4 linked regions of the Homo sapiens genome follow. The protein of the gene in region 1 purifies or fractionates together with the protein of each later gene. This does not show direct contact. Each region holds a gene or a part of one and is shown on either strand. Other genes may lie near its edges.

Region 1 (8,425 bases):
CTGGCATAAGCTAGCCTGGATTTGGGGAGGGTTCTCATCCCAATAGAGGAGTTGCTTATTGTGCTGAAACTGTTTATGCAACAATGTGTTTACCCTAAAGATCTGCTTTCCTCCTGGGTGTCTGAAATCTTGGCACAGCCAGGCACAGGGGACCTCTGTGACCAGCCGCCAATTTTAAAACACCCTGGTTGGGGGCATGGTGGTTCACACCTATAATTCCAGCACTCGGGGAGGCTGAGGCGGGCGGGCCACCTGAGGTCAGGAGTTCGAGACCAGCCTGGCCAACATGGCAAAACCCTGTATCTGCTAGAAATACATAAAAATGGCCAGGTGCAGTGGCTCCCGCCTGTAATCCCAGCACTTTGGGAGGCTGAGGCGGGCAGATCAACTGAGGTCAGGAGTTCGAGACCAGCCTGGCCAATGTGGTGAAAGCCCATTTCTACTAAAAATACAAAAATTAGCTGGGCGTGGTGGCGGATGCCTGTAATCCCAGCTACTCAGGAGGCTGAGGCAGGAGAATTGCTTGAACACAGGAGGCAGAGATTGCAGTGAGCCAAGTTCCTGCCACTGCACTCCAGCCTGGGCGAAAAGGGTGAAACTCCCTCTTTAAAAAAAAAAAAAAAAAAAAGAAAAGAGAGAGAGAGAAAGGAAAGAGGGAGAAAGAAAAAAAAGAAAAGAAAAGAAAGATAGATTAGGCAGGCATGGTAGCAGGTGCCTACAGTCCCAGCTACTTTAGAGGCTGAGGCAGGAGAATCACTTGAACCCAGTAGGCAGAGATTGCAATGAGCCGAGACAGCACCACTGCATTCTAGCCTGGGCAATAGAGCGAGACCCTGTCTCAAAACAAAACAAAACAAAAAAACAAAGTAAAGGGACACAGCCCTGAGGCAGCCCCTGTGTTCGGGGAAATCTGATCAGTGCCAGGGCCGGCATTGCAGAGGATAAACACTTTAATATAAGGAGCTGGGACAAATTGTCATCTAAACAAGAAAAATATCTTGTATTCTACCTATTTCAGGAACAACAAAAAATGTATTATAGAATTAAGGTAAGGGTACTGCAGTATTGGAAGCAGAACAGAATCATCCACCGTCAAAAATTCTCTACCATGTCAAGGAGAATAACATATTTTGGTAAATTTGTATAATTTATCTGCAACATGTTTCGTGGCAATGTATTCATTTTTCTGCACGTATGGTGGAAAGGAGATTTTCTCTGTTTCTCTGAGACTCTTCTCCCCAGTAACATTTTGAAGTTTAGGCCCTGGAATCCTATTTATTGTCATTCAAAAGAAAAGAACAAGGCTGGTCGAGGAGGGAGAATCACCTGAGCTCAGGAGTTCGAGACCAGCCTGGGTAACAGAATGAGACCCCATCCCTAGAAACAAAAAAATACAAAAGCTTAGGCATGGCGGCACACACCTGGAGTCCCTGTGTTCAGAAGGCTGAGGCAGGAAGATTGCTTGAGCCCAGGAGGTGGAGGCTGCAGTGAGCTGTGATCGCACCAGTGCACTCCAGCATGGGCAACAGAGCTCCCAAAAAAATAATAGTAATAAAAGAAAACAGAAAATAACAGATCTGAGAAACGACACACACTCCAGGGAATGTTTAACAAATGGAATGTAAGACACAGATTTTAATTTTTTTCCTGAAATTCACCCCGTTGGAAGTTTTTTTTTTTTTTTGAGACGGAGTCTCGCTCTGTCACCCAGGCTGGAGTGCAATGGCGCGTTCTCAGCTCACCGCAACCTCCGCCTTCTGCGTTCAAGTGATTTTCCCGCCTCAGCCTCCCGAGTAGCTGGGACTACAGGCACCCGCCACCACGCCCAGCTAATTTTTGTATTTCTAGCAGAGACGGGGTTTCTCCATGTTGGCCAGGCTGGTCCCCAACTCCTGACCTCAAGTAATCTGCTCCCCTCGGCCTGTCACAGTGCTGGGATGACAGGCTTGAGCCACCGCGCCCGGCCTGGAAATATTTTATCTTCCAACTTCTACTAATTAAATGTACGTTTCACTTCCTAAAAACTGCTGACTCGAAAAAAGGAAAATCTTTTCACAGTGACAAACCCAGGGAGGGGTCAAGTCTGGCCAGGCTACCACGACGGACGCCCTCCCACCCCCAACTCAGGTGTTGCCTCAGCAAGGAATCCCATTGCTAGTACTCAAAACAGAACTGAGAAACGTCTTCAAATCCACACTTTCTAGGGAACCGTGAAAGAATATATTTCCGTGGTTTTAGCCCCCTCGTTTGCAGTCAGTTGCTACAGCAGTCCGAGGACACTAATGCACCAGCCTCCCGGGCGTCCCCGCTGTGGGTCTGCGTGCGTTTGCTTTTGGGGTCCTCGCTCTCCCTTGTTTCTCTAGTCTTTTCAGTTACTTTTCTTCCTTGTGTGTGAGAGCCCAGGGACCAGGAACCCTTGTTTTTTTTCCCCTTACCTACCCCAGGCATCTTGGGGTCAGAGGGGACAAGAAGTCCTCAAGAAGGAAAACCGGGACTCAGGGGAGGAAACCTCGCACGCCCCAGGGGCTGCCTTTGCAGGTGGGGGCGTCTCCGCCCCCGCCGAGGCCCCACCGCTCCCGGGCTGTCCCGGGAGGAACCCAGGGTCCCCCAGAGACCGCGGCCGGAGGCGCGGGGCCTCCAAGGAGCTGAGCCGCGGGAGCGCGAGCGGAGGCGGCACCGACCAGGGACCCGCACCCCAGGAGGCACCGCGGCGTCGGCCCCAGGGCGGGTCCCGGGGGAGCCTGGACCGCACCTCGGGGTCTCGGGCGACTCTGCCTCCCGCGGCCCGGGGGTCCCGAAGCCGCAGCGAAACGCTCCGAGGCGTCGCGGCCCCGGGCGGGGCGTGGGGGGTCGGGAGCGCAGGGACGCGGGGACCCCGGGACGACGGGGACGGAGTCGGGCTCCGGGCGCCGCTCCCCGCTCTGCAGCCTTGGGGCCAGAGGCGGGCGGGGACCCGGAGCTCGGAGCGCCCTAGCCGCGACCTCAGCGCGGGAGGCGGGGCCGGGCGGGACCCCCGGGGCCCAGGCTCCCGTCCTGCGCCGCCCTCGCCGGGGCCGCCCCCCGCGTCCCTCAGCTCCCCCCAAGCCGCGGTCTCGGGCGGTCGCCGGTTCCTGCTGCCCCGCACCGGGATCCTCTCCTGCGCCACACTCACCATGTCCCGGGGCGATTTCTTCGCTACCGGCGCAGGTGAGCGCGACAGGAACCGGGACGCCAGGGACCGCTAGGGGCAGGCGGGGCACTCACGGCTAGGACAGAGGCGTCCCGTCCCAGGGGCCTGATTAGACAGAGCTCGGGAAGCCGCGCTTCTGATTGGACAGTGCTGCCAACGTCGGCGACTCTGATTGGAGAATTCCCCAGTCCGTCCCCTGGCGCTGTAAATTGGGCAGTTCCCCGGATTCCGATTGGGCGTCCCTCATTGGATACTTGTCTCGGCCCCGCCCCCGCCCGTCCTGACTGGGTAGTTCCCTAGGGCCCACCCCCTGCCGGTGAGTGACGGGAGCGTTGCGAACACGCGTGGCTGTCCCGCCCTGCGGGGACACTGGCTTCTGGGCGAACTGGTTTCAGCCCGGGGCGGAATCGCCCTCTCCCCGCAGTTCGGGCGCCCCGCCCGCGTCCTCCTCCGGGACGGGCGTGGGAACTCCAGACTAGTTTCCTCACGAGGCGACCCCTTGTCCGGACAGGAGGTGGATGCAAGCGGGCGGCCCGGGCCTGGCAGGGCGAACGGGGGCTGGGCGCCGGGTCCGAAGGGCCGAGACCTACGTGGGGGCGGGACCCGCAGACGTGACGTCATCGCGCTGCGGGCGACATGGAGACCCCGCCCAGGGGGCTGCGAATCCGGAGACCCGGTCTGGGGGAGGCCGAACCCAAAGCCTGGCAGGGGGCAGGAGCTTTGCTCAAATCAACCAGAAGATATGAGATGTTCATTAAAACCCTCACATTTGGCTGGGCGCAGTGGCTCACGCCTGTAATCCCAGCACTTTGGGAGACCGAGGTGGACGGATCATCTGAGTTCAGGAGTTTGAGACCATCGTGGCCAATATGGTGAAACCCTTTCTCTACTAAAAATACAGAAATCAGCCCGGCGTGGTGCCGGGCGCCTGTAATCTCAGCTACTGGGGATGCTGGGGCAGGAGAATTGCTTGAACCCGAGAGGTGGAGGTTGTAGTGACCCGAGATCGCCCCACTGCAGTCTAGCCTGGGCGACAGAGTGAGACTCCATATTAAAAAACAAAAAAACTCTCAAGTTCATATTTTAAACTCTAAGGAAAATGTTTTCAGATCATTTTTTTAAGTACATCCCCCCAAAATTTGGAAGATTGAAAAGCTGGCCGGGCGCTGTGGCTCACGCCTGTAATCCCAGCACTTTGGGAGGCCGAGGCGGGCGGATCACCTGAGGTCAGGAGTTCAAGACCAGCCTGCCCAACATGGCAAAACCCTGTCTCTACTAAAAATACAAAATTAGCCGGGCGTGGTGGCGCGCACCTGTAATCCCAGCTAGGGAGGCTGAGGCAAGAGAATCGCTTGAGGCCGGGCACGGTGGCTCACGCCTGTAATCCCAGCACTTTGGGAGGCCGAGGCGGGCGGATCACGAGGTCAGGAGATCGAGACCATCCTGGCTAACACGGTGAAACCCCGTCTCTACTAAAAAATACAAAAAAATTAGCCAGGCCTGGTGGCGGGTGCCTGTAGTCCCAGCTACTCGGGAGGCTGAGGCGGGAGAATGGCGTGAACCCGGGAGGCAGAGGTTGCAGTGAGCCGAGATCGCGCCACTGCACTCCACCACTCCAGCCTGGGTGACAAAGCGAGACTCCGTCTCAAAAACAAACAAACAAACAAACAACAACAACAAAAACAAAAAGAATCGCTTGAACCCAGGGAGGCAGAGGTTGCAGTGAGTCAAGATCATTCCACTGCACTCCAGCCTGGGGGACACAGCAAGACTCCGTCTCAAAAAAAAAAAAAAAAAAAAAAGGAAGTCTATAATATTGCACAACAGGAACGTATCTAACGCCACTGAACTTTAGACTTAAAAATGATGAACATGGTAAATATTTGTTATTTGTATTTTACTACAATTTTTAGATGTTATATTTAAAACAGAAAAGGCTATATTTCTAAGGATATTGAATCCCTATTTTAACTGATATAAGAAAAACACGCAAAAGTTTAAATGAATTGGATTGAACCTTAGGAGGGAAGTGTTTTTTTTTTAAATTTTTGGTTTTTTCAGTCTTGCTCTGTCACCCAGGCTGGAGTGCAATGGCAGGATCCCGACTCACTGTAAACTCCACCTCCCGGGTTCAAGTGATTATCGTACCTCAGCCTTCCGAGTAGGTGAGACTACAGACCTGCCCCGCCACACCCAGCTAATTTTTTTGTTTTTTGTTTTTTTGAGACGCAGTTTCGCTCTTGTTGCCCAGGCTGGAGTGCAATGGCGAGATCTCGGCTCACTGCAACCTCTGCCTCCCAGGTTCAAGCGATTCTCCTGGTTCAGCTTCCCGAGTAGCTGGGACTACAGGCACCTGCCATCATGCCTGGCTAATTTTGTATTTTTAGTAGAGACGGGGTTTCTCCGTGGTGGTCGGGCTGGTCTCGAACTCCCAACCTTATGTGATCCACCCGCCTCGGCCTCCCAAAGTGCTGGGATTACAGGTGTGAGCCACCACGCCTGGCCTACTAATTTTTATTTTTTTAGTAGAGATGAGGTTTCACCATGTTGGCCAGGCTGGTCTCAAACTCTTGACCTCAGGTGATCCACCTGCCTCGGACTTGCAAAGTGCTTGGATTACAGGTGTGAGCCACCACACCCAGCCTTCAATTTTTTTTAAAAAAAGGAAAAACGATTGTGATAGGCCTGAAAACACTGAATACACTTAATAGACAGGGGCTGAAAACCAAACACAGTTAATGGTTATTCATTTCAGAAAACTCCATAGCTTAAGTGGTTGTTCAAATTCTGATATTGACATTTCATTTAGAAACAATTTTTAAAATTTATTTTTATCTTTCCTAGGAAGGTTTTACACACTTTTATAAAAATTAATGTTTAGAGGACTGACATAGGAAAGCAGCTTCCAGTTAAAAATAGTGTGCCCGGGCTCGGTGGCTCACGCCTCTAATCCCAGCACTTTGGGAGGCTGAGGTGGGTGGACAACCTGAGGTGAGGAGTTTGAGACCAGCCTGGCCAACATGGTGAAAGCCCCATCTCTAATAAAAATACAAAAAAAATTAGCCGGGCGTGGTGGCGCATGCCTGTAGTCCCAGCTGCTTGGGAGCTGAGGCAGGAGAATCGCTTGAACCCAGAGGCAGAGGTTGCAGTGAGCCGAAATCTCACCATTGCACTCCTGCCTGGGCAACACAGTGAGACTCCATCTCAAAAAATAAAATATAATTGCTGGAGGGAGATAACAAGACTGAAAACAGTACAGTCAGGAGACTTCTAAGTCAACCCTTCTCAAGAATATGCTGGAAGTTACAGATGCTTTCCCCAAAAAACACATCAATGCACCAGCACACAAAGTTGTTCTCAAAGTTGTTCACAGAGCCCCTAAAGAAACTTACTCATCAACCCAATAGGGTCTAGACTGACCATGGATCAAGGATCTCTAAGGAAAAGCAACATGTTCCATTTGGGTGAAAGGAGATCTGACGGGCAACCTCCCTCATTAGCTCAAGGAAAAAGGGAACATTCACAGGAAAGTTAGATGAGTCCTAAGAGAAAATTTGTAAAATTTTTTTGAGACAGGGTCTTGCTTTGTCACTCAGGCTGCAGTGCGGTGGTATGCTCATAGCTCACTGCAGCCTCAGCCTCCTGGGCTCAAGCGGTCCTTCCACCTCAGCCCCCAGAGTAGCTGGGACTACAGGCGTGAGCCACCATGCCTGGCTAATGTTTGTATTTTTTGCAGAGACAGGGTCAATGTTGCCCAGGCTGGTTTTGAACACCTGGGCTCAAGTGATCCTCCCACCTCAGGCTCCCAAAATACTGGGATTGCAGTTGTGAGCCACTACACCCAGCTTTCCAAGAGAACATTTGGAAAACAGTTCCCCTGCTTGGTGGCCTGGCAAATGAGGTGTGGCTTTGTACAGGGTGCTCAAGGTCAAATCCAGAGTCCACTACTTTTTTTTTTTTTTTTTGAGACAGAGTCTCACTGTCACCCAGGCTAGAGTGCAATGGCACCATCTCGGCTCACTGAAACATCAGCTATTCTCATGCCACAGCCTCCTGAATAGCTGGGCCTAGAGGCGTGCACCACGACGCCCAGATTTTTTTTTTTTTTTTTTTTTGAGACAGAGTTTCACTCTTGTTGCCCAGAGCTGGAGTGTAATGGTACTGTCCCAGCTCACAGCAACCTCCACCTCCCGGGTTCAAGCGATTCTCCTGCCTCAGCCTCCGAGTAGCTGGGATTACGGGCATGCACCACCATGCCGGCTAATTTTGTATGTTTAGTAGAGATGCGGTTTCTCCATGTTGGTCAGGCTGGTCTCGAACTCCTGACCTCAGGTGATCCGCCCATCTCGGCCTCCCTAATTTTTGTATTTTTTGGTAGACATGGGGCTTCACCATGTTGGCCAGGCTGGTCTCGAACTCCTGACCTCAAGTGATCCACCCACCTCAGCCTCTCAAAGTGCTGGGATCACAGGTGTGAGCCACTGTGCCCAGCCCAGATTCTACTCCTTTCTAATTGTGTGACCTTGAGCAAATTATTTCCGTTTTGTCTTCTGTAAAATGGAATGTGAATAGTGATTATCTCATGGGGTCGTGAGGGCTAAATGAAGAACCACATGGAAGTACTTGGCTGGTGCTTGGTATACAGTAAGCATCCAATACATGTTCATGACGATAATGCACATCAGCACTCCTGGTCTTGATTTTGCTAGGGACATCTCACAGGCGGGACTTTTCCCAGGCCACCAAAGGTCATTCCACCCTCTATGTCCCAAAGTCTACTATACTATGTCTCTACCATCTAGGTACCCACAGTCTATCCTGACTCATCAATGAGGTTCCGTATCCTTCACAATTTTGGGTGCTATTTGATTTGTATTCATTGTCAAAATGATTATGGCAATACAAAATGAAACGGCAGAAAACACAAAATCACACATAATTGGAACACCCCAATCATTGCGTAAATGATTCATTTCTTCACGTCTCTGTCCAGCCTTTGTCCTTTTGTGAATGGATCAAATTACTAGTACTATTTTGAAGCCCTTGTATTTTTTAAACTTTACCTCCAAAGCGCTTTCCGTCTTAGCATATACTCTGGATCAGCACAGTACTGCAGAAGACAAACGGATCTAGCTAAGTGGCCAATGTGAAACACTGAAACAGAATGCTGAAATAAAGGCCAGGAGCAGTGGTTCACACCTGTAATCCCAGCACGGCGGCTCGCACCCATAATCCCAGCAGGGTGGCTCACACCTG
Region 2 (7,617 bases), on another chromosome or scaffold:
AGAAACTCACGTCATATAATTTATCATATACTAACAATGTAAAAACATTATTTAAAAATAAGAAGTCGATTAGAAGACTGTATGTTTCAGTAGTATGAAACTTACCTTTCTTTTCAACTTCTGACTTATCATAGTTAGGTCTTAGTTTGGCCCCTTTGTCTGCTAGCAATGCCACAAGGGCCTGTGTTACAACAAAGTTTGGGGAGGTCACAAGCTTGTTCTCTTCAGCAATTCCTCGGAGAAAGCTGGGTAGAAACTTTCGCTGAATTGAGTCATCAACTGTGGTTAGATTTACACCTGTTGCAGCAGAAATCAAGTTCTGAAGAAGCAATTGGAAAAACAGACTTAATTTTTACATGTAATTTTGGAACAAAAATATTTCATTTCAAAAGGCTCAAGAATCAGTCAGAAATAATCAATGTAACGGGGAAAAGTACTGAAAGTAGCTTACCTGTGTACACAACTGTACAAGCAGTTTGGCAGCACTAGGAGCATTTGATGCCAGACATCCCACTGCTGTGCTCAAATAGGCCAGGCAAGAGATAGGCTTGTTAGCCTTGCTATGCCCACCTCGTGATCGTTCTGAGGTGCTAGCCATGGCAGAAGGGCTGGTGGAGAGGCCAGCTCTCCCTGCTGCTGCCAAGCACATTAATCGAACTAGCGTTCGGATATCTGTTAGCCCCAGAGACTCAAGACCAGCAGCCAGGCTACAACTGGAACCACTGCCAGTAAAGAAAAACATCTCAGATGGATAAAGAAAATGGATTTCTTAAGGGACCATTTGCAGTCCCACATAACATTCACAGCATCAACAACCATAATAAAATGTAAGCTGCACTATCATTAGCCATACATGTCCTAAGAGTTGCCAAAGGTATCAAGCTGGAAACTGGCATCTAAACGTTCTCTCCTTTTAATAAGTATTGGCATATACTTGAAGTACAATTGAACTGACAAAGTAAAACAGGAATGTTCACAAAGCATAAATTTTCATAAGCTGAACAAACCCATGTCACCGCCCTCCAGATCAAGAAACAGAACATTGCCAGTACCTCAGAAACCTGCTTTGGGCTTTTCTCAGTCACGATGCTCTCAGAAGTAACCACTATCCTGACTTCTAAAGCTACAAGTTAGTTTTGCCTGTTTTTGAACTTTACATCAATTGAATAATTAATATATGTACTCTTTTGTGTCTGGCTTCTTCAATATTATGTTTGTAAGATTCATCCAAATCTTGTAGCATTGAGCAGTTCGTTTTCATTGACATATACATGAAATCTGCCACAGTTCATTTATCCCTACAGATGACAATCAGGCGGTTTCCAACATGGGGCTATTATGAATAGTACTACCATGAATGATTGGTCTTTAGGGGGCACATATTTAAGTATTTCTGTTGGATATATACCCAGAAGTGGATCTCTGGGTCACAGAGTATGTTCCTGTTCAGTTTTAGTTGATACTATCGAACAGTTTTCCAAAGTGGTTATACCAATTCATTTTCTCACTAACAATGTATGGGAGTTTTAGCTGTTTCAGTCACTTTTTTCTCTCTAGTGTTTTAAATGTTTGCCATTCTTGTGGGTGTGCAATGGTATCTCATTGGTGGGTTTTTTGTCTTAGGTTTTTTTTTTTTTTTTTTTGAGACAGGGTCTCACTATGTTTCCCAGGCTGGTCTCAAACTCCTGGCTCAAGGGTTCTTCCCGTCTTGGCCTCCCAATCACACTGGATTTTAATTTTCATTTCTCTGAAGACTCACTGAGGTTGAACATCTTTTCATGTTTATTGGCCATTTGGAGATCCTCTTTTGTGAAACACTTCTTAATGTGTTTTGTCCACTTTCTTCTGGGTTGTCTTTTTCTTGTTAATTTATAGGAATTCTTTACACATTCTGTTGGTTAGATGCATTACTAATATCTTCTCCCATTCTATGGCTTGCTTTTTTACTTTCTTACTTTTCAAATCACTTTTGCTAAACAGAGGTTTTCTATTTTATTGTATTCCAATTTATCAATCTTTTATGGCAGATTCCTTTTGTGACTTGCTTGAGGAATTTTTGCTTGTCCCAAGACCAAGAAGCAATTCTTCTATGTTACCTTCAATAAACTTTATTGATTTATTTTTCTTTTATATTTAGATCTAATAGCCACTTTATAACTATTTGCTTTATATAGTTTGAGGTTGGGACCAAGGCTTTTTTTTTCTATGTGGATAAACCATCAGACCCTGCTTCAGTTACTGAAAAAAACAGCCTTTCTCTATTGCTCTACAGTGTGAACCACTGTCATAAATCAAACCATAAATCAAGTGTTTATTTATATGTATGGGTCAGTTTCTTAACTCTCTTCTGTACTATCCTATTTGCCTATCCTTGAGCCAATAGCACACAGTCTTATGGAAATTTTGTTTTTCTTTCAGGATCTTTCTGCCTTCACTGATTTGCCATTAAATACTCCTGCTTAATCACTTCTTAAACAGCTGTCTTTTAGGTATTTCTGGTTCTCATCCCCTTTTTACATTACACTCCACAGTATCAACACGGCAAGGATCCCCATGATGGCATCTGCAGGCTGACTTAGCTACACAGACGGTCAATACATTTTGACCTTTAGTTTTTGATCCAGCACCATTGGGATCAACAGCCTTAGTTTCCCATTTCAAGCAACAAAATAAAATGTATGCAGTTTACTCAGTTGTGATAATGGCATTATTTTCTACCTAAAAAGAGCCAAGTATTAACTGAATGACCGATTGAGTGAATAACAATGACTACGTCTAACATCTTTCATTCAACAGTACATATTCAAGCTTCTAAAATTCTATCTCACCCTCCCAAACACCACCAGACTTCCAGCTAATGTACACTAGAAGTTAACTTAGCATCATGTGACATAAAATAACACTTACCTGACTGAGAGAAGAGACAGCGCTCTCATGACCATGGTTCTGGCCAGAAGAACCTGAGCAGCAGCAGTCACTCTCCTTAAAGCCACCACACGGTCATGAGGGTTTGCTAGGGCAGCTGCCTGCTCTCCTAACGTTATTCTCCCAGAGGAGCTCTTTTCTACGGAGCCATGGCAACCTGAAAAACATAATTCTGTTTTGTTCTCAACAAGGTAAGAAAAAAATACATCTGAACTACTAAAAACATTTCCTATTCTACAGAGGTTCCATAACAAACCAATGTCTTTTGCTCATCTGGAACTTGGTTATACAGAAAATTTCTTAGGAGAAACTCACATATTTCTAAGTTTGAACTTGGATATTTCTAACTTAGATATTTCTATGTTAACAATGTATTTACCATAGGAGTATTTATACTTAATTTACCAGTAAGTATTTTCTGTTTTGTTCATTTTGCCCATGTATCACATCTACTGATTATAAGTGCTTTGAGAATTTATAAAGGACTGAATTACCAATACTGCCCAATTCTTTATTTTGTATTCCCTATACCAAAAATTTACCACACCCTCTCACCCAAATAAAAAGAAGACTGCACAATAATTTTAAGTTGGTTACAGGATTCTCTTAACACCAAGTTTTTTTTTAAATAACAAGTTCTATAAATCTTTTTATTGCTTCGGTATCATGAAAGACAAAAAAAAATCAAAACATTTATTTTTTCCTCTTGAGACAGGGTCTGGTTCTGTCACCCAGGCTGGAGTGCAGTGGCTCAATCATCACTCACCATAACCTCAAACTCCTGGGATTAAACAATTTTTCTGCCTCAGCCTCCTGAGTAGCTGGGACTAAAGGTGCACACCACCCACCCAGCTACTTTTCTTCATTTTTTTAATAGAAATGGGTCTCACCATGTTGCCCAGCCTGGTCTTGAACTGCTGGCCTCAAGCGACCTTCTTTCTTCAGCCTTCCAAAGTGCTGGGATTACGAGCATAAGCCACCAAGCCCAGCCAAAACTTAATACCACATTATACCTTCAAAATGTTAAAACAACTGGCTAAAGAGACTTGTTGGGGTGAGATAATGTTGAACCATTAGTCTTATTTACTTTTACTTTATTATTATTATTTACCTATCTAAGAAACAAATTATAGTAGATGCTATAAAATCAATGCAAATCAGGATTTCAGTTTACCTATTTGCATCAGAGTCTCTTCCATACTGTTGGTGGCTGTGACCATTGCTACTGATGCTCCCAGTGGATCGCTGTCAGGGAACTGAACTGGTTCTGGTACAATGCGCCGGTCATTTAAACCAAGCGGTCCAGCAAGTAATTCAAATTCTTCTTCACCAGTTAGCTTTTCATCTTCATCAACATCCAACATGTCCCAGTCTTCTGGAATTTAAATAAATAAATGTATAGTATGTGAATTTAAATATTACATAAATCTGCTGGCAATGGTTGTTCTGAAAATACATCTAAAATGCAGATGAGCAGCCAGATGCGATGGCTCACGCCTGTAATCCCAACACTCTGGGAGGCCGAGGCGACTGGATCACATGAGGTCAGGAATTTGAGACCAGCCTGGCCAACATGATGAAACCCCATCCCCACCAAAAAATACAAAAATTAGCCAGGCATGGTGGTGTGTGCCTGTAATCCCAGCTACTCAGGAGGCTGAGACCGGAGAATTGCTTGAACCTGGGAGGCCGTGGCTGCAGTAAGCTGAGATCACGCCACAGCACTACAGCCTGGACAACAGAGTGAGACTCCATCTCAAAGAAATAAAAACAATAAATAAATAAATAAATACATACATACATAAAATGCAGATGGACTGAAAGTCCAGTGACCACATAATGAACTATGGCACCATCTCCTGAAAACTTAACCAAACTGCACTCCTGAAGCATAAGTGAGACTCTCAGGGAAAGGGAGTCAATGTAGTTAAATAAGTTGACAGCAATAGCAAATGCTACAGCTGGTAATAGAGGTTTAAACTAATTAAAAATATTGTCATGGGTCCAACAAAGAGTTCTTAGCTGTCTGTAATCATTAGGGAATGAGTTATTTCAAGAAAATGAGTGCTCCAGAAAAATCAATGCTCATCTCTATTTATTTTTTACTTTCCACAATTAGGGTGGAAATTCAAAATATACCACATCCTTTCCCTACTTTGAAAAAAAAATACACCTAATAGAAATTAATATTCTGTGGTAAAGTTGGTCTTTGAAACCACGTTCTTTTCCTTTGACTTTTAAACCAGCGTTGTTGCTATTAAATTCCCTTGAGTTTTTAAGGGAAAATTTAAGTTAACATGTACACAAATACAAACACACACACACACGAAGGTGAATTTTAGTAACAGATGTTAAGCAGAGAGGATATATAAAAAAACATGTAAAATAAAGAAGCTCTCAAAACAAACTACCTTCATACACACTGTCTTGCTTGCCAATTAGATCTGGAGCTTGTCCCTTGTACCTGCACCAAACATGAAGAACATTGCATTTTTATATAAAACAGTTAGTACCCCAAGATGCAAATTAAGTCATTAGAACATTTTAAGAGGTCATTAATAAAGCAGCACAAAATAAAAAAGTATGTTTCATGTTATAGGCTAACATAATAAAAACTGCTGGTATGTAGGTACACACATGCTTACAAAATCAATGATTATTTTACCAAACTACTGGGGAGATTTCTGGGTTACCTAAAACAACTCTTTTAACCAAATTCTATTCCATAAAGCCTTAAAGATTTTAATAGTTGACAATTAAGGGCAACAAACCTACTCTCTAGGGATTAAGGATGTAAAGAGATAATATTTTTATGGAACTCGTTTAATCAAAAGTCTGTTTTTTTCATCAGGAAAAAGATCTTAATTAAAATGCCAGAAATATGGTAGAAAATACAAATGAAAAGAATTGAGTAGAAGCCTCCTGAGGGTTAAGGCAAGGGTCCTGACCATTACTTGCCAACAAGTCAGAGGTTAACACAGTCAAACTCCAGGGAAGGATATGTTGCTATGCCATTATTCCTGGGAACATGAATTTCTGAAACCCCTCCATCCCTTCTGCCCAAAGTGTAAGAATCACGGGATTTCAGGGAAGGTTAAATGTAACTCCTCACGTGAAAAATCTACAGTTCCCAAGACTTAAGGTATGAGGTATCTTCAGGAGGTCTGGATATCTACACAATTTCAAGGTACCTTTCAGAACTTGTTGACTTAGATTTGGTCTTCATGGCTAAGTACTTCTCCCTGCAGGTGCCACATAACAGGTAGTACGGATTTCCACTCCCACATTCACCGCCAAACCAGCCATCCACATAGGAACCATTGCTGCGATAGCCCTGGCGGTTTGCACTGCGCCCACAGCCTGGATGGTTTCTCTTCATGTGCTGATTGAAGCTGACGACGCTGCATTCACACAGTTCACACACCACCACTTCTTCCCTGTCTTCAGACTCACAAACATGCTGCACAAAAGGATTTCATACCAAATGATTAGTCAATTTAACATAAAACCAAGAAGTACCAAGTAGATTATTTATATTAAATTACTTTATTACATATGCTAGAATATTTCCAACATGTTCATTAATGCTAAATAAAAAATTTCTTTCAAATCAGAATTCAGATAACACAATCGGAAGGTGTTCTTTGCCCTCTCTCACTCTAATAAGTTATATCAATAATACAAGTAACTGAGTATCCTACTGAGAAGAGTTAATGAACATGACAATCTGTCCTATCTCAAAATGAGGCTTTTTAAAAAAAAAACTCCACTAGTGAAAAGAACTAATTTTCATCTGGTCACAAAATGCATACCTACTTTATGAATTTTTGGGAAAAATCATTATGATTCACTTATTTATATAGCAGATTCTCTTTCCTGTAGGACTTACATCTATGAGCTTTTTGGTCTCCCTACTACAAAAATGTAATGCTAACCAATGTATATACAAATCCACCATGTACCTTGCCCCTAAATGGAGGTATTTACAAGATCTAGGTGAGCACTGGTTCCTAGAATAAGGCATTACATTGATTAAATGGAACCTATGAAGGAGAAGAACATGCATTCAGATAGCAATGTGAGCACAGCAGCCATGTTATATAACCTGTCAACGTCTACTGGAACCTGATGCTTGTTTTGTAATTTATCTTTGACATCAGAATCAAATATTACCACAGTATGACTCTATTCATCTTGTCTGGGGAGAGAAACAATAAAATCCCACAGAGAAAGCAAGAGAGACTTTTCCTTATTAGTTTGTAGGTATCAAAGTAACCTCATAACTTTAAATCCCCAAACCTCAGGATGAGATAAAAGACTTTTTAGAGTGTTTCAACTCTAGGCAAGGCTGCTGTTAGTAAGCTATATGAACAGGAGGGCAGGAAAATAAGTCAGAGCAGCCCCCGCTGCAGTCACACACACCCAGGTAGGCCAATCCAGTACCTCTGGGATCCACATTCCCAGAATATCATTGTCACTGGTCAGGTCTTGTCCAAACATAGCTTCCATCGCCTCATCATCAAGATCAATTTCCAATTCCTCATCTAAATTAAAGTCATACAACGCCCCTGGGTCTTGCTGCAAAGATATTCCTTCTCTCCGACTTTGATTCCTGTGGGCCTGCACAGAGCGGTATAATCCCGCTCAGAACAAAACAAAAAAGGCATTTTATTTGCATGCATAAAATAATTC
Region 3 (8,138 bases), on another chromosome or scaffold:
TGAGAGTAGGTGGCAGGCAGGTTGCTGAATGGAATCTGGAACAGAATCTTGGGGCTAGAACCTCAGAGTTCACTGACTGAACTCCAGAACTCACGCATTTATTCTCCTATTGTCTCATTTTAAAGATCTTCAAAGAAATGCCACATATATGCTATATGATTTTGGTATAGTTTTAATGCGTATTATTTCTCTTAAACAAAAAAAGAAAAGTCAGATGAGTACAGAGAAGCAGTTGACACACAAAGAGAGGTCATTAAGGCAGTGGTTCAGGGTCTGGGTCTCTGCTTTATAGAGCCAGAAACGTAATTTTACCACTGTACCCAGTTGAACACATGTTAAACAAATTTACATGGTATTGATGCATAAATCACTTTACAAGTTTATCTATTTATAATAAAGAAATAAACGATCTAGTGTACATATTCTATCAAAACATACCATCCCTGAAATAAAAGACCATAGGAAGCTGAACTAATAAGTCAAAAATGTTGCCTGATGAGTGCAAAAATCAAGAGTCCTGAGGAATATTTCATTCAGGCCAAGAAAACGCCTAAGCATTATCTCTAATGCACAAGAGAATGGGCTTCTCTAATAACCACAATGTTTATGTCTACCAAATTTATTATTTCTTTTATTTGGGTAGTGCTGTATATTACATAACAGAATATAAAAATTACCAGCAATCCCTCTATAAAAGTTTATTTGCGGCTGGGCACAGTGAGTGGCTCATGCCTGAGCACTTTGGGAGTGACTTTGGGAGGCCGAGATGGGTGGATTGCTTGAGTCCATGAACCCAGGAGTTCGAGACCAGCCTGGGAAACATGGTGAAACCCTGCCTACACCAAAAAAAAAAAAAATTATTTGCTACACTTTTTTAGGCCCTTCATTTCTGCATACATTTCTATGTTCTCTTTTTCTATACTCCAATAGACTATCCCCTTCTGTTAATACCCACCTGTTTTCAGACAAGTGTCAAAACCACTGATTAAGTAGTGGTTTCCTTTAAAATCAAACACAGCAATACCTCTTAGGGTGGGTTACTACTACTGATGCTTCCCTTAATCCTTACTAGGGATACAGCAGTATAAACTTAATCCCCCCTACCAGTGTTCTAAGTACAACTTTTAGATTCAGTATAGTTAGTTCTACTTGACATACATTTATTTCAGTCAACAACCTGTGATAGAGACATATGATTAAAAAGTACAGAGGAAACCATGAACAGTTAAGAAAGTGAAAAATGGTCCTCTGGAGAATAAGACAAGGGATATAGAAAAGCTGGGCAAAGAATGACTGCTTTTCCTTATAAGTCTGTTTGTAATACTTGATTTTTAAAAACCTGCCTACATGTATTACTTTTTTAATATTACTACAGTAAAAAGGAAGTGGGGGGAAGCTCATTTATTCTTCCCCCTCCCTAAATATTAACACATTTTATTTTGAGAAACATTTTTACTAATTAGATTCTGGATCATTAAGCAATCTATGCTACTGCATTTAAAAAACGTATTGAGTAATTCACCCAAAGTAATTTTCCCTATAATGGAGCATTCCAAATTTTTAAGCAGAATAGAAAGAAAATAAAGCAAACACTTTAATTGGCTGCAGAGATATTCTTAAAAGATTATGACAAACCTCGGCCAGGCGTGGTGGCTCACGCCTGTAATCCCAGCATTTTGGGAGGCCGAGGTGGGTGGATCAGTTGAGGTCAAGAGTTCAAGACCAGCCTGGCCAATATAGCGAAACCCCATCTCTACTACAAATACAAAAAAATTAGCCAGGAGTGATGTCGGGCGCCTGTAATCCCAGCTACTCGGAAGGCTGAGGTAGGAGAACTTCTAGAACCCTAGGGGCGGAGGTTGCAGTGAGCAGAGATCACGCCATTGCACTCCAGCCTGGGCGACAGAGCCAGACTCCGCCTCAAAAAAAAAAAAAAAAGAAAAAAGAAAAAATATTATGACAAACCTCTATTTTTGCATTCTAACTACCTCATTCTTTTTCATTTAATATTACTGAGGAAGTTGATTCCAAACCTAATCATTATTCATTGAAAAACTAAAGAAAAAAAAACAAAAAACTAGTCATTTCATTTGCTTTCAGAAGCATAATAAAAATAAACATGAAGGGGGTTTCATGATTATTCAAATTTATAGACGGAATCTATAAAACATAACCAAAAATATTGTCCTGTGTGATATTACTTGCTCCTCTACATTCCAACTACTGGGGAATTAAAAATAAGTGTCATAAACAGTTTCTTAGACATCTTAAAATTCTATCCTGCAACTTTGACTTTATAATCCAACAGGAAGGAAAGTCTGAAGTATCAAAAAGAAAATTGACGTGAAGCACAAATCTATATAACCTAACTCTGACACTTTGAACAGAGCAAACATGTTTAGCTGCAATAACAACAACAATAAAACAACAATAATAAAGGTTTCAAAGTCCTGTGCAAAAACAAGCTGAGTCTTCCCTCTGGAAAATAGATAATTTAACAACTTTACAGAAGGACCTGACACCACAATACTCCCGTGCTAAATTATTCTCTTAAAGCACCTGCAAAGCAGAGTAATCTTTCACATCCAAAAGCCACTCCCTGCTCAAAACCACCCGCATCCAAGCCGAACCTGAGACCTCACCAGCTGCCCTACCTCCAGCGCGCTCTCCCCCGACCCCACAGCAGCCCCTCGCGGAGCTCTCCTCTGCTGTCTTCCTTTTTCTTTGCCAAGAACACCAGAAAAGGGGGTCCCTCCAGCTCGGCCGTCCAGACCCTTCCTCTGGCTCAGAGCAGTGGCGAGCCCATCCCAATTCCGCGCTTCCTTTGCAGGCCTCCCTCTGGCGTGGGGACCCTCCTGCTTTCCTATGCAAGTACTAACCAGGCCCGACCCTGCTTAGCTTCTGAGATGAGACGAGGTCGGGGGTGTTCAGGGTGGCACGGCCGTAGACCCTCTGGCTTTCCGCCGCTCCACCTGGCACTCCGAGAGCTAACGCCAGCGATGGAGTCCGCGCCACCCCTGCCCCGAGGCCTCTGCCCCAACTGCGTGGCCGCTCAACTCTCCGCTTCCTCCCGCCCGCCTCTCCACCCCACCCCGCCCCTGGCCCTGTACCTGGAGCTCCAGGCCAGGTACAGCTGGCCTGCCCACGCCAGCTTCCCAGCTGATGCCTGGCGCTGAGCAGCAGTCTGACATGGAGAAGGCGGAGTCCTTCCGGGGTCAGGAGTGCGAAGGTGGAGAGAAAGTGGAGGGGGCCTTCCAGGCTTTCTGCGTGAGGGACTACGTGTGAAGCAGCTCCCGCCATTTTTGTTTAGGGTAGAGGCTCCTTCCTCGTCAAGTGGATGCAAAAACTATATTCGAAGAATTGCATCCTTTTACAAACCGGTAAAAAAAAAAAAAAAAAACTAGTATTGTAGTTCGTAACCTGTCGGGGGATCTAGAACGGTTGTCAATCTGGTAAAAATTATGGAGGGTTTCCCCTGGAAAAAAAAAAATGTGTATACACATGCTCATTACATTAAAGAAAAAAAAGTTACACAATTTCAAAACCCTGAAAACAAGATTAAGAACTTCTACCACAGGCCCTCAGCCCTCAGATGAATGAGTGTTAAGAGGCATTCCAATCCGGTATAGATGATGCATTTATTATTGATTTCATGTCCTCTTTACCTTTTTTTCTGTGTTTCCCACTGAATTAGGCAACCGAAGAATATTGAATGTGGCAATTTATTGGCAGAGTAGTCACCTCTCTCAGGTTCTAATACATAGTAAACTAATAGGGGGCCGGGTTAGGAAAAAATAACAACAACAAAACCCAAGGTACTGTTTCTACGTTCAGTCTTCAGTCAAAACATTCCATCAGAACTGCAGATTTAGGCGGGGCACGGTGGCTGAAGCCTGTAATCCCAGCACTTTGGCGGGCCAAGGCGGGCAGATCACTTGAGGTCAGGAGTTCAAGACCAGCCTGGCCAACATGGCGAAACCCCATCTCTACTAAAAGTACAAAAATTAGCCAGGCACCTGCCTGTAATCCCAGCTACTCGGGAGGCTGAGGCAGGAAAATCGCTTGAACCCGGGAGGCGGAGGTTGTGTGAGCCCAGATAGTGCTACTGCACCCCAACCTGGGTGACTAGAGTGAGACTCTGTCTCAAAACAAAAAACAAAACAAAACAAAACAAAACAAAAAAACTGCAGATTTAAGAATTCCAGTTGCTGAGCATATTTGTGGTGAAAAGCCAAAATAATTCTGTTTTCAAAATTCCCATTTAACCAAATGGAAAATAGAATAGTAGTACCAATTTATGATATTATTAGATTAATAATAACTAACGATCCACAGACTGGGTTTTATGTGAAAATATTTTGCACTTATAGGGTAAATGGAGCTCTTGAGACTTGAAGAACCTGAAATTTGTAAGGCTATTTTCATTTATTTTCCCAATTTCCTCCTCTTTCCCATTTCCCACAGCTTCCAAACATTCAACGTAATGAGAATAGCAGTAATGATGATGACTACCACTCAACACAACTTTCCTGAGACCATATTATCTCCTTAATTCCACAATAAACATTATGAGAAAAATAGTATTACACGGTGGGTACAGAGTTTATTCTTTAGCATGAGAATAAGATATGTCACATTTAGGCCAAGTGAGGTGGCTCACATCTGTAATCCCAACACTTTGTGGGGCCGATGAGGGAGGATCCCTTGAGGTAAGAAGTTCGAGATTAGCCTGGGCAATAGCAAGACCCTCATTTCTACAAAATAATAATAAAATATATAAAATAGAAATATCACATTTAATTTATGTTTATAAACCAAATGTAATTTGCTGTAAGCCTCCCTTCTTCTGGTTTGGCAGAGTACTGCACTCAATCTTAGCCATTATTGGATATATTAGTTAACATATTCGCTACAAGTAAAAGAAAACCAAACAAGTAGTGGTTTAAACCAGAAGGACAGGGGACTCAATGTCTTCTGATATTGGAGACAAGGAAAAAAAAATTGGAGCCTGGATTAATTCTGAAGGCCAGTACCTCCCCCAGATAACCAAGCCATCGTGTAATGCTCACTAAACCAGAGAATGGAGTTCATGGAGTACTACCAGTTGTTTCTTCTGTACAAGTACTGCAATACATGCTACAGCAACCATTAATGAATTTAGGGGATCCTATCTGCATAATATCAAAACAAAACTGTGAAGTCAGACTGCCTGGGTTTGAATCCTTTCTTGGCCACTTACTAGATGCATTGTTAAAGGAAAAGAAACACAAAGCTATTTTTCTGTAGTTTCAACACTTCTGACTCCAAATGTGTGGAGGTTTTTCCCCACCAAACAAGTCTCCAATTATTTCTTATTATAAACTCCACTCTTTAATTTAGTGTCTACCAACTGGGTGTTGTACAGTTAAATTTAATTCAATACTATGCACCAAACCCTTAAGGGCTCAGTCCTACAAGACTGCCCCCACTTCAGATACCAATTGCAAATCCCAGGTTGTCACTTGTACTTCTGACCAACCAGCTATAAATCAGGAATTCCCACAATCTTCTCCTCCCATCCCAAACCAGTCTATTGATTTATAACAGAAGATATTACAAAGGATACAGATGAACAGCCGGATGAAGAGGTACATAAAACAAGATCTGGAAGGATCCTAAGTGCAGGAACTTCTGTCCCCATGGAATCAGGGTGTATGACCTTTTTGGGATATGGATGTGTTCACCAACTCAGAAGCTCTTAGAACCCCGTACTTCAGGGATTTCTGTGGAGGCTTCATAATGTTGTTACCAGAAAGGGGTACCAATCCAGATCCCAAGAGAGGGTGCTTGGATTTCGCACAAGAAAGAATTCAGGGCAAGTCCACAGTCCAAAGCAAAAGCAAGTTTAAGACAGTGAAGTGGTGAATGTCCACTTACTCTATAGACAGAGTAGGGCGTTCCCAAAAGGAAGAAGAGGAATGCATCCACTCTAGGTACAATATTCATTTATAGAGGAGTTAAAAAAAAAAAGATCATGGGAAGATGTGCTCTGCTACGAGGGTTTGTGGTAAAAGATTAATTTTCTTAATTACCATATTTTGCAAGAATTAATATTATTATCTTTAAAGCAAAATTAGGAATGCTTTTGCTCTCAAGGTATCAGGGACATCAGGACACTCCCAAGTCTGGGTCTGTTTAGTAAACATTATCAATCTGTTCCCTTAACTGTAAATGTTTAGAAGCTAGAAATGCCTAACTTTCTGGGAATGCAGCCCAGCAAGTCCCAGCCTCATTTTCCTAGCCCGCACTCAAAACGGAGTCGCTCTGGTTTGAACCCTCTGACAATGTAACCATAATTGATTATTAACTCAATCTTCAACTACTCTCTCCTCCACAGAGGATAGGGTAGGTATGGGGCCAACATTTTTAAGCTTCTAATCATAGCTTGAATTTGCTGGTGACCAGCCCCTATCCTGAAGCTATCCAGGAGCCCAACAAGAATATTAGAAAAAAAGACACTCCTATCAACCGGGAAATTCCAAGAGATTTAGGAGCTCTGTGTCAGGACTGGGGACAGAGAGCAAATATATATCTTTTCTTTCTTTGTTTCTTTTCCTTCTGTCTGTCTCGTTTGCCTGCCTGCCTGCCCGCCCGCCTTCCTTCCTTCCTTCCTTCCTTCCTTCCTTCCTTCCTTCCTTCTTTCTTTCTTTGTCTCTTTCTCTCTTTCTTTCTTTCTTGCTTTGATACAGGATCTCACTTTATTGCCCAGGCTGCACTGAAGTAGTGTGATCATAGCTCACTGCAGCCTAGAACTCCTGGGCTCAAGTGATCTTCCTGCTTCAGTCTTCTGAGTGGCCAGGACTACAGGCACTTGCCACCATGCCCAGTTAATTTTTAAAATTTTAGTAGAGACAATGTCTCCCTATGTTGCCAGGGCCTGGTCTCAAACTCCTGGGCTCAAGTGATCCTCCCACCTCAGCCTCCCAAAATGTTGGGATTATAGGTGTGAGACACAGTGCCTGGCCCAAATATGTATTTTTTATGTCACAGTGGTCTTCAGCAAGGTACTTACCCTTTTCATGTCTCAATTTCCTCCTGGCATGTTAGAAAGACAAATATAGGCCTGGCACTGTGGCTCACACCTGGAGGCCGAGGTGAGCAGATCATTTGAGGTTAGGAGCTCGAGACCAGTCTGGTCAACATGGTGAAACCCCATCTGTACTAAAAATACAAAATTAGCCAGATGTGGTGGTGCGTGCCTGTAATTCCAGCTACTCGGGAGGCTGAGGTAGGAGAATCGTTTGAATCCAGGAGGCAGAGGTTGCAGTGAGCCAAGATCACGCCGCTGCTCTCCAGCCTAGGCAACAGAGCAGGACTCTGTCTCAAAAAATAAAAAGAAAAAGAAAGACAAATATAGTAATGCTTAGAAAGAACTAAGAATCTTATGGAAAATTTTTTTTTTTTGGAGACGAAGTCTCGCTCTGTTGCCCAGGGTGGAATGCAGTGGCACGATCTCGGCTCACTGCGACCTCCACCTCCCGGGTTCAAGCAATTCTCCTGCCTCAGCCTCCCAAGTAGCTGAGACTACAGGCGCATGCTGCCATGCCAAGCTAATTTTTTGTATTTTAGTAGAGACAGGGTTTCACTGTGTTGCCTGAGCTGTTCTCAGACTCCTGAACTCAGGCAGTACGCCTGCCTTGGCCTCCCAAAATGCTAGGATTACAGGTGTGAGCCAACGCACCCAGCTCTTATGGAAATTTTTCACTTGAGTACTTGGACCTCCATAGGATCCAAGGAGGCAACTGTATTTCAATATAGTTGGTTTGCCTTGTAATCCCATGTATTTGTTTTATGCACATAGAAGCATTACTTTGAAAAGGGGGTCCCAGACTCTACCAGAAAGCCAAGAGGTCCATAAAAAAAAAAGGTTAAGAATGTAGAACAGACTGCTAAGACCGCGTCCACCCCGCGAGCACAGAGCTCCGCTGCCCTTCCACATCTGTGTGATGGTGGGCATGGGTCAAAAGGACTCCTACGAGGGTGATGAGGCCCAGAGCAAGAGAGGTATCCTGACCCTGAAGTACCCCATAGAGCACAGCATCATCACCAACTGGGATGACATGGAGAAGATCTGGCACCACAACTTCTACAACGAGCCG
Region 4 (7,617 bases), on another chromosome or scaffold:
CTTACATAAATTAGACCACCAAATGGGTGAGCTAAGCTGTAGACATTTCCATGGCACAGCGTTAGTTATGTTTTTCTGGTTTTAATATTTTTAAAACCTTGTTTTAAAAGTTGTTCTAGGGCCGGATGTGGTGGCTCATGCCTGTAATCCCAGCACTTTGGGAGGCCGAGGTGGGCGGATCACGAGGTCAGGAGATCGAGACCATCCTGGCTAACACGGTGAAACCCTGTCTCTACTAAAAATACAAAAAAATTAGCCAGGCGTGGTGGCGGGTGCCTGTAGTCCCAGCTACTTGGGAGACTGAGGCAGGAGAATGGCGTGAACCCAGGAGGCGGAGCTTGTAGTGAGCCAAGATCGCGCCACTGCACTCCAGCCTGGGCGACAGAGCAAGACTCCATCCAAAAAAAAAAAGTTGATTCTAGGACTCATTACCTGTGAAGCAGTTCAACAGTTGCTGCACCTATCATTTGGTCTCCTAAACACTCAAGACTTAGAAGAGTTCATATCAAATAGTGTTATTGAAGTATGCAGAAATTATATTTCACCCACATCAGTAAGGTCAAATGCCTTATCCTCAGCAATGTGTACCAGGTTGATAGGACATTGCCACAGTCCCACCCTGTCTGATCTATTGGCAATCTTATACAGTCCGATTACATAGTAGAGGTAACGTGGGGTGGGGTCAGGAGCCTGTGCGTGGGTTCCAGCCCACTGGACCCTGCATGGCAGAGACAAGGGGCATGCTCATTAAGGGGAAGGGTACCCCTTGCTATTTACTGTCTTGAAAAATATGCTTCCCTTACTGTTAGTCAGAGTCTTGCTGCTTCAAAACCACATCAGCACAAGAGTGTTTTCTCAGCAGACAACCTCGTGTTTATGCCGTTCTCTACAAACACAGCTATCATTCTTCTTAAAGGGGAAGGCACTGTACTTTGCCTCTGATTCTAAATGGGAATGTTTAAAACCAACCAAGTGCCCGAGTCTAAGGATGTCACGCCAACTTCTACAGCAAGATCGGGACCACTAACGTTACTCTATCACCTTCCATCTTTCTCTCTAACATAACACATGCACACTCTCTCTCTCTCTCTCAGTCTCACTCTCACACTTAGGTTGTTACAAATCCCGCTTTGAAATTCATGTAGTCAGTGAGGTCCTTTGAGGAAGCACAGAAGAGCCACCTCCTCCATGACAAAGTTTATAGCCAGTTGTTCTCACTCATGTGGGCTTCTCCCTGGACTACAGAAGCTCCAGCCCCTCATCATGCTGTGGACTCGCTTTGATGATTGTACTTTAAAGGCCTCAGGGCAGTAGCACTCCTAACCAGAGCTTGGCCTCAGTGCACATTTTAAATGGTGGTTTCCTGGGGGTGCAGAGCAAACAAATCACTTAAGTACATTCAGGGCTTCTGGACAACCAAAATTAACCGATTCAGATGAAGTTATTTCTTCTTTATAGGAAGAAGAAAATCACAAAGGAAATCTTCAAAGGTAAGTAAGATTGATGAAAATAATAGATTACTAGAATAAAAATGTCTTGGTCTTAAAATGTTGTTTTGTCAATGCAGTCTATTTTACCACTCTCTTCAAAATGACTTAAAATTATGCCACTTCTGAAGAAGTGGCTGCTTTATTATTCATTTCATAAACATGGTATTTTTGATTATTAACAAAGAAGTTAGACGTGCTGTGTCACATGTGTATGAGTTTTATGGTAAGGACTTTCCAGTTGTTGTTGTGTTATGTATACAAAGGAATGCTTGTGTTGAGTGGTTTTTGAAAGGTCCATGGAAACCTCTCTTTTCTCATTTAAAGTCTGGGAAAACTCTCTTTTGTATGCTGTGAGATGCTTTATACACTGTATTTAAAAGCTCCACTAAGAGAATTTATTAAAATATTTTCTGGCAGTAGTCCTTGAAGAAGATATATAGTGGTTGATGTGGTTGTTAGTTACACACCAGTTTTTTCCTCCCCAGTTTAATTTCCTCCAGTTTTACTTTTTCATCATTCTCCAAATGAATACATACCGTTTCTACTACATGAAATTTCTTCTCAGGCAATTCAGCATTTCCAGATCGCCTCATCCTTGATTTTCCTCTGAACTTCGAGTCTGTGAATGACTGTCCTCTTCCCATTTGCTCCCTGCCAGATCTCTGCAGCACCTAGCCATGCCTGTGGCACACTTCTGTCCTTCACGCTGTCTTCTCTGGTCTTTCTTGGGTGGTACAGGACAGTACTTGAGAGCTCAGGCTCTAGAGCCAAACTGCCTGGGTTGGTTGGTTGGTTGGTTGGTTGGTTGATTTTTGAAATGGAGTCTCGCTCTGTCTCCCAGGCTGGAGTACAGTGGCACAATCTTGGCTCACTGCAACCTCTGCCCCCTGGGTTCAAGCAATTCTGCATCAGCCTCCCAAGTAGCTGGGATTACAGGCAAACCCCACCATACCCGGCTAATTTTTGTCTTTTAATAGAAACAGAGTTTCGCCATGTTGGCCAGGCTGGTCTCGAATTCCTGACCTCAGGTGATCCACCCGCCTCAGCCTCCCGAAGTGCTGGGATTACAGGCGTGAGCCACTGTGCCCAGCCCAAACTGCCTGGGTTTGAATCGCTTCTGCCTCCTTGGGTAGGTTACTCAACTGCTTTGTGCCTCAGTTTCCTCATCTGTATACAGGACGTATTTTGATTATCTTTTTTTTTTGCAGCTTATGTATGTTAATACACATAATGAAAGCAGCACATGGCACAAAACAAACAGTAAACAGAGTTTAGTCATTACACCCTCCCACCTTCCCCGTTCACAGCAGCAGCCACATCAGTGTTTCCGGTTAGGCTTTGGAGCAACTGTACTTCACCACTCAAGCCATCAACTTTTATGCTTTCAAAAGTAACACATGCTTGTTATAAAATGTAAATATTGGCTGAGGCAGGAAAATTGACCGAACCCGGGAGGCGGAGGTTGCAGTGAACCGAGATTGCGCCACTGCACTACATCCTGGGCGACAGAGTAAGACTCCGTCTCAAAAAAAAAAAAAGATAGATAGATAGATAGATAGTCTCAAAATATCCAAAGTGGAAACTGGATGCGCCCTCCCCACTGTCCCCATGTCCTCTGATTCTGACTGCCCGGTATGTTTCCACCATACTCTCTTCGTTCCACCTGCAAGCGCCTACACATGCTCCAGATGTATCCCGGGTTTTCTCATCATGGTTTTGTTTGCTTTGGCCACTGCTGAGGTTAATGCCTCTGCTTTCTCTGTCTTTATCATCTCTGTTCCACCATATCCATCCATGCCCCAGAGGCACTGAGTTCCCACCCAGGTAGGTGCCACTGATTTAACTCTGAGACAGTTCCTCTGTGGGCAAAAGTGGGAGTTAGATGAGCTATGTCCACAGAAATGTGGAAAGGACCAGGGTGTTGGCATGTGTCCGGCACTTACAGTCCCCAGCGAACAGTGTTCTGAAACTCATCATTAATTCAGCAACTCCTTGAATTGAGAAGAGGGAAATTCATACTTGCTGGAAAGCTCATGACCTTGGGACAAATCAACCCATCCCTACCATTGCCCTTCCTTTCCGGCACTGGATATAGCCAGCTTGTGGTTATTCAAAGCACCACTGGACAGTTTGTAGATTATTTCTAACAACAAAAAGATAACAAGATGGAATGCCTAACGATGTCACTTTTAGCCTGCTGTTTTACCCCGTGGTGCTGACCACATGGACGGGTGCCTTGCCCCCAAGGTGAAGCCAGCTGTCAGCAAAGCTGCCCAGAGCTTTGCTGGTTCTGTGTACCAGCGCACACGGTACAGGGACTTGCTCAGAGCAGACCCCAATTCTGGCCTCATCATCATTAATAGGTCCTATGGAGGAGTGGTCCATACACTCAATCTGGGACCCCTTCCACAGGGCCTGCACTAGTCTAGATCCCTAGGTTTAAGCCTGTGCTTTGTGGGGTGAAAGGAGTATCAGTATGTCCTGTAAGAATCTGGACAGTGAGTCTACAGACACCTCATCGCCCCATCCCACCCCAGCTGGAGGGATTCCAGGCCAAAGAGGTTCTGTTGCCTGAGCCAGCAGGCACAGGCAGCCCCAGCCCCGTTCCTGACCACCACTTCTTTGCCCTGGTGGTAGTCGTGCCCGAGCACTCCGGCCACTTTCTGTCTTAGCCTGGAAGCATTGCTGGCACCCCTGCAGCACCTGCCAGGCATGTGAGAGGCATTCAGCGAACTCATGGCAAATTGAAAGTGCTAACACATGGAAGAATCCACACCAAATCTGTGTCCATCAGGTGGCAGCTTGCCAAAACCTGGCCATCGCCGTGGCTCACCGTCTTCACCCTTCAGCTGTGGTCCGAGTGAGTCTCCTGAGAATTCTCACTGAGGCACTGAGGCCTCAAGTGATTCTCCTGTCTTGGCCTCCCAAAGTGTTGGGATTACGGGTGTGAGCCAGAGTTGGTTGTATTAAATTCTGACCAATGCAAGGCTTCAGGAACAATTCCAGAGCCACGCAGAGTCCAATAAATGCCCGCAGGGTAAGTCTGTGAGTGCAGCACATGAGCAGCTGACAGTGTTCTCCTGGTGTGGGTGGCAGCGGGTGCCTTCACTGACACTTCTCATGCAGGGCAGGACATGGGTGTTGTGGTGTGTCAGAGGCTCCCTGGCAGGTACTGACACCCTCTTTTCTGCTTTTCCCAGGGCGGTGTCCGTGTCCTCCATGTCTGAGTTCCAGCGTCTAATGGACATCTCCCCCTTCCTGCCTGAGAAGGGCCTGCCGTCCACCAGCAGCAAGGAGGATGTCACCCCACCCCTGTCTCCAGACGACCTCAAGTACATCGAGGAGTTCAACAAGAGCTGGGACTACACACCCAACAGGGGCCACAATGGTGGGGGGCCGGACCTTTGGGCCGACAGGACCGAGGTGGGGCGGGCAGGGCACGAGGACAGCACAGAGCCTTTCCCCGACTCCTCCTGGTACCTAACCACAAGTGTCACCATGACCACGGACACCATGACCAGCCCAGAGCACTGCCAGAAGCAGCCACTGCGGAGCCACGTCCTCACCGAGCAGTCGGGGTTGCGCGTGTTACACAGCCCGCCTGCCGTGCGCAGGGTCGACAGCATCACGGCGGCAGGTGGTGAGGGTCCCTTTCCCACAAGCAGAGCCAGAGGGAGCCCGGGAGACACCAAGGGAGGCCCTCCAGAACCCATGCTCAGCAGGTGGCCTTGCACCTCCCCCAGGCACTCCCGGGACTATGTGGAGGGGGCACGGCGCCCCCTTGATAGTCCCCTCTGTACCTCCCTGGGGTTTGCCTCCCCACTGCACAGCCTGGAGATGTCCAAGAACTTGAGTGATGACATGAAGGAGGTGGCCTTCTCTGTCAGGAATGCCATCTGCTCCGGCCCTGGCGAGCTGCAAGTCAAGGACATGGCCTGCCAGACCAATGGGTCCCGGACGATGGGGACCCAGACTGTTCAGACCATCAGTGTGGGCTTGCAGACTGAAGCCCTGCGTGGCAGCGGTGTCACCAGCAGCCCCCACAAGTGTCTCACTCCAAAGGCTGGGGGCGGTGCTACACCCGTGTCGTCTCCTTCCCGGAGCCTTAGGAGCAGACAGGTGGCCCCTGCCATCGAGAAGGTGCAGGCCAAGTTTGAACGCACATGCTGCTCCCCCAAGTATGGTTCTCCCAAGCTGCAGAGGAAGCCCCTCCCCAAAGCCGACCAGCCAAATAACAGGACGTCACCAGGGATGGCCCAGAAAGGGTACAGTGAGTCAGCCTGGGCCCGCTCCACCACCACAAGGGAGAGCCCCGTGCACACCACCATTAATGATGGCCTCTCCAGCCTCTTCAACATCATTGACCACAGCCCCGTGGTGCAGGACCCCTTCCAGAAGGGGCTGCGGGCCGGCAGTCGGTCTCGCTCAGCAGAGCCCCGACCAGAGCTGGGCCCAGGCCAGGAAACAGGCACCAATTCCCGAGGAAGGTCGCCTAGCCCCATTGGGGTGGGGTCAGAGATGTGCAGGGAGGAAGGGGGAGAGGGCACGCCAGTGAAGCAGGACTTATCTGCTCCCCCTGGCTACACGCTCACTGAGAACGTGGCCCGGATCCTCAACAAGAAGCTGCTGGAACATGCCTTAAAGGAGGAGAGGAGGCAGGCTGCCCACGGGCCCCCGGGTCTCCACAGTGACAGCCACTCGCTGGGGGACACAGCCGAGCCAGGGCCCATGGAGGTAATGAATGCTGAGTGCCCCACACCCTTCCCCACCAGCTCTTCCCTTTAGCTGTGGGGCAGGTTGGGACTTGGGATTGTGCTCTGTCATTTGATCTCAGGAATCGTCCATGATTGGTTATTGGGAGCTGGGGAGGTGTTAGGTTTATGGGAGAATAGAATAGGCAGAAAAAGCCCTGAGCAACTTTTTTGAAGAAAATGTTATTTTATTGTCCTTGGGAAATCATATAGTACATGGTTTGATTTGGGTTCTGTCACCAGTCTTAAGTGATTGATCCTTATTTATCAGGGCATTTTATTTGGGGTCAGTTTGCCTTCTTTCTGTGTGAATTCGTGCACATGTACAAACTATGGGATAGTTGTGTCAGGCTTGCTGCATACTGCAGACCTTCATATGTGACAGCATGAGGTGAGCTGGAGAGGGTCTGGACCACATGAGCACGAGCACTTCTCATCAGGAGCCACAAGATCTCGATTCCTGGGCTGGCTTCCTTACAAAACAGCCATCTGGCAGCTCACAAATCACTTACCCTCTTTGTGGCCATGAGCCCCCCTAGCAGTAAAACCAAGTGAAACATATAGACAAAATCAAAATCCTACCCTAATACAATATGATTATCATTATTGCCCTTGATATTACTCACAAATCAATCCACTGTGAATTGGGTTCTGATGCACATCCACATGTGGTGTTTTTGTACACCACTTTACAAAACGCTTCCCATTTCCACTTCAACAATGAGCAAAATGAAAGCCTGATGTTGATGCTGGTGGTGATGGCTATGGTGATGCCACTTTGTGGTTCGTGCAGCACAGAGAGGACGTGTCTGTCCAGCGAGTGATTCCAACTCGCCAGGAGTCCGGATGAACAGGCTTCACACTGGGAACACCTGGCCCCATGAGCACTCTCCGAGCCAGGCTGCTCCCGCAGATGGCGGGGGTCAGAGGAGGAGGAGGACGGCAGCTTGCTCCTGGTCTGCCCGCTGCTTCCTCGCCAGGACCCAAGCAGCCCTGGCTTCATGGGCAGGGAGAGGAGGAAGGTGTATTGCCTGTTTCACCTGGCCCACGTTTCCCACAAGAGGGTAAATGATGGCTGTCTTCCCAGCCTGGCCCACCAATGAATGTTTAACTCAGAATGCAGGCTTGAAATCTGAATAGGTCAGACCTGTGGAACTGCCAATGGCTTACAGAAGTGGCAATTCCATATGGTTCACACCTAATACAAATATTGATACTACATGGCCTACATGTTCCAAGATCTGAGTCTTTGTGATAAAGTTGTTTGCATGCTCTGAGGACAAACTGCTGGTTGAATGTTCTCAGGTGACAAATGGTGTCTTCTTTGGGCTACTGTTACCCCATCCTTCTGGGGTCCTCAGGTAAGTCCTCCTGCC

What was found.
Region 2: the proteins of ZNF555 (region 1) and HERC1 purify together in Homo sapiens (affinity purification with mass spectrometry; 2 studies listed by BioGRID and IntAct, with this or other methods). This does not show direct contact.
Region 3: the proteins of ZNF555 (region 1) and MIGA1 purify together in Homo sapiens (affinity purification with mass spectrometry; 2 studies listed by BioGRID and IntAct, with this or other methods). This does not show direct contact.
Region 4: the proteins of ZNF555 (region 1) and MTCL1 purify together in Homo sapiens (affinity purification with mass spectrometry; 2 studies listed by BioGRID and IntAct, with this or other methods). This does not show direct contact.

Annotation. Positions count from the first base shown.
Region 1 is NC_000019.10:2,836,302-2,844,726, reverse strand, and holds the start of ZNF555 (zinc finger protein 555), read right to left. Parts: upstream 3,253-8,425; 5' UTR 3,155-3,252; coding exon 3,152-3,154; intron 2,568-3,151; exon of another isoform or gene 2,449-2,567; coding exon of another isoform or gene 2,440-2,448; intron 1-2,439. UniProt on the Homo sapiens protein: May be involved in transcriptional regulation.
Region 2 is NC_000015.10:63,655,637-63,663,253, forward strand, and holds part of HERC1 (probable E3 ubiquitin-protein ligase HERC1), read right to left. Parts: intron 7,569-7,617; coding exon 7,348-7,568; intron 6,386-7,347; coding exon 6,117-6,385; intron 5,390-6,116; coding exon 5,337-5,389; intron 4,301-5,336; coding exon 4,100-4,300; intron 3,098-4,099; coding exon of another isoform or gene 3,083-3,097; coding exon 2,908-3,082; intron 723-2,907; coding exon 452-722; intron 320-451; coding exon 106-319; intron 1-105. UniProt on the Homo sapiens protein: Involved in membrane trafficking via some guanine nucleotide exchange factor (GEF) activity and its ability to bind clathrin. Acts as a GEF for Arf and Rab, by exchanging bound GDP for free GTP.
Region 3 is NC_000001.11:77,774,709-77,782,846, reverse strand, and holds the start of MIGA1 (mitoguardin 1), read right to left. Parts: upstream 3,199-8,138; 5' UTR 3,192-3,198; coding exon of another isoform or gene 3,111-3,191; intron 3,043-3,110; exon of another isoform or gene 2,655-3,042; intron 1-2,654. UniProt on the Homo sapiens protein: Regulator of mitochondrial fusion: acts by forming homo- and heterodimers at the mitochondrial outer membrane and facilitating the formation of PLD6/MitoPLD dimers. May act by regulating phospholipid metabolism via PLD6/MitoPLD.
Region 4 is NC_000018.10:8,820,009-8,827,625, forward strand, and holds part of MTCL1 (microtubule cross-linking factor 1), read left to right. Parts: intron 1-1,458; coding exon 1,459-1,490; intron 1,491-4,162; coding exon of another isoform or gene 4,163-4,208; exon of another isoform or gene 4,209-4,350; intron 4,351-4,690; coding exon 4,691-6,224; intron 6,225-7,546; coding exon of another isoform or gene 7,547-7,602; intron 7,603-7,617. UniProt on the Homo sapiens protein: Microtubule-associated factor involved in the late phase of epithelial polarization and microtubule dynamics regulation.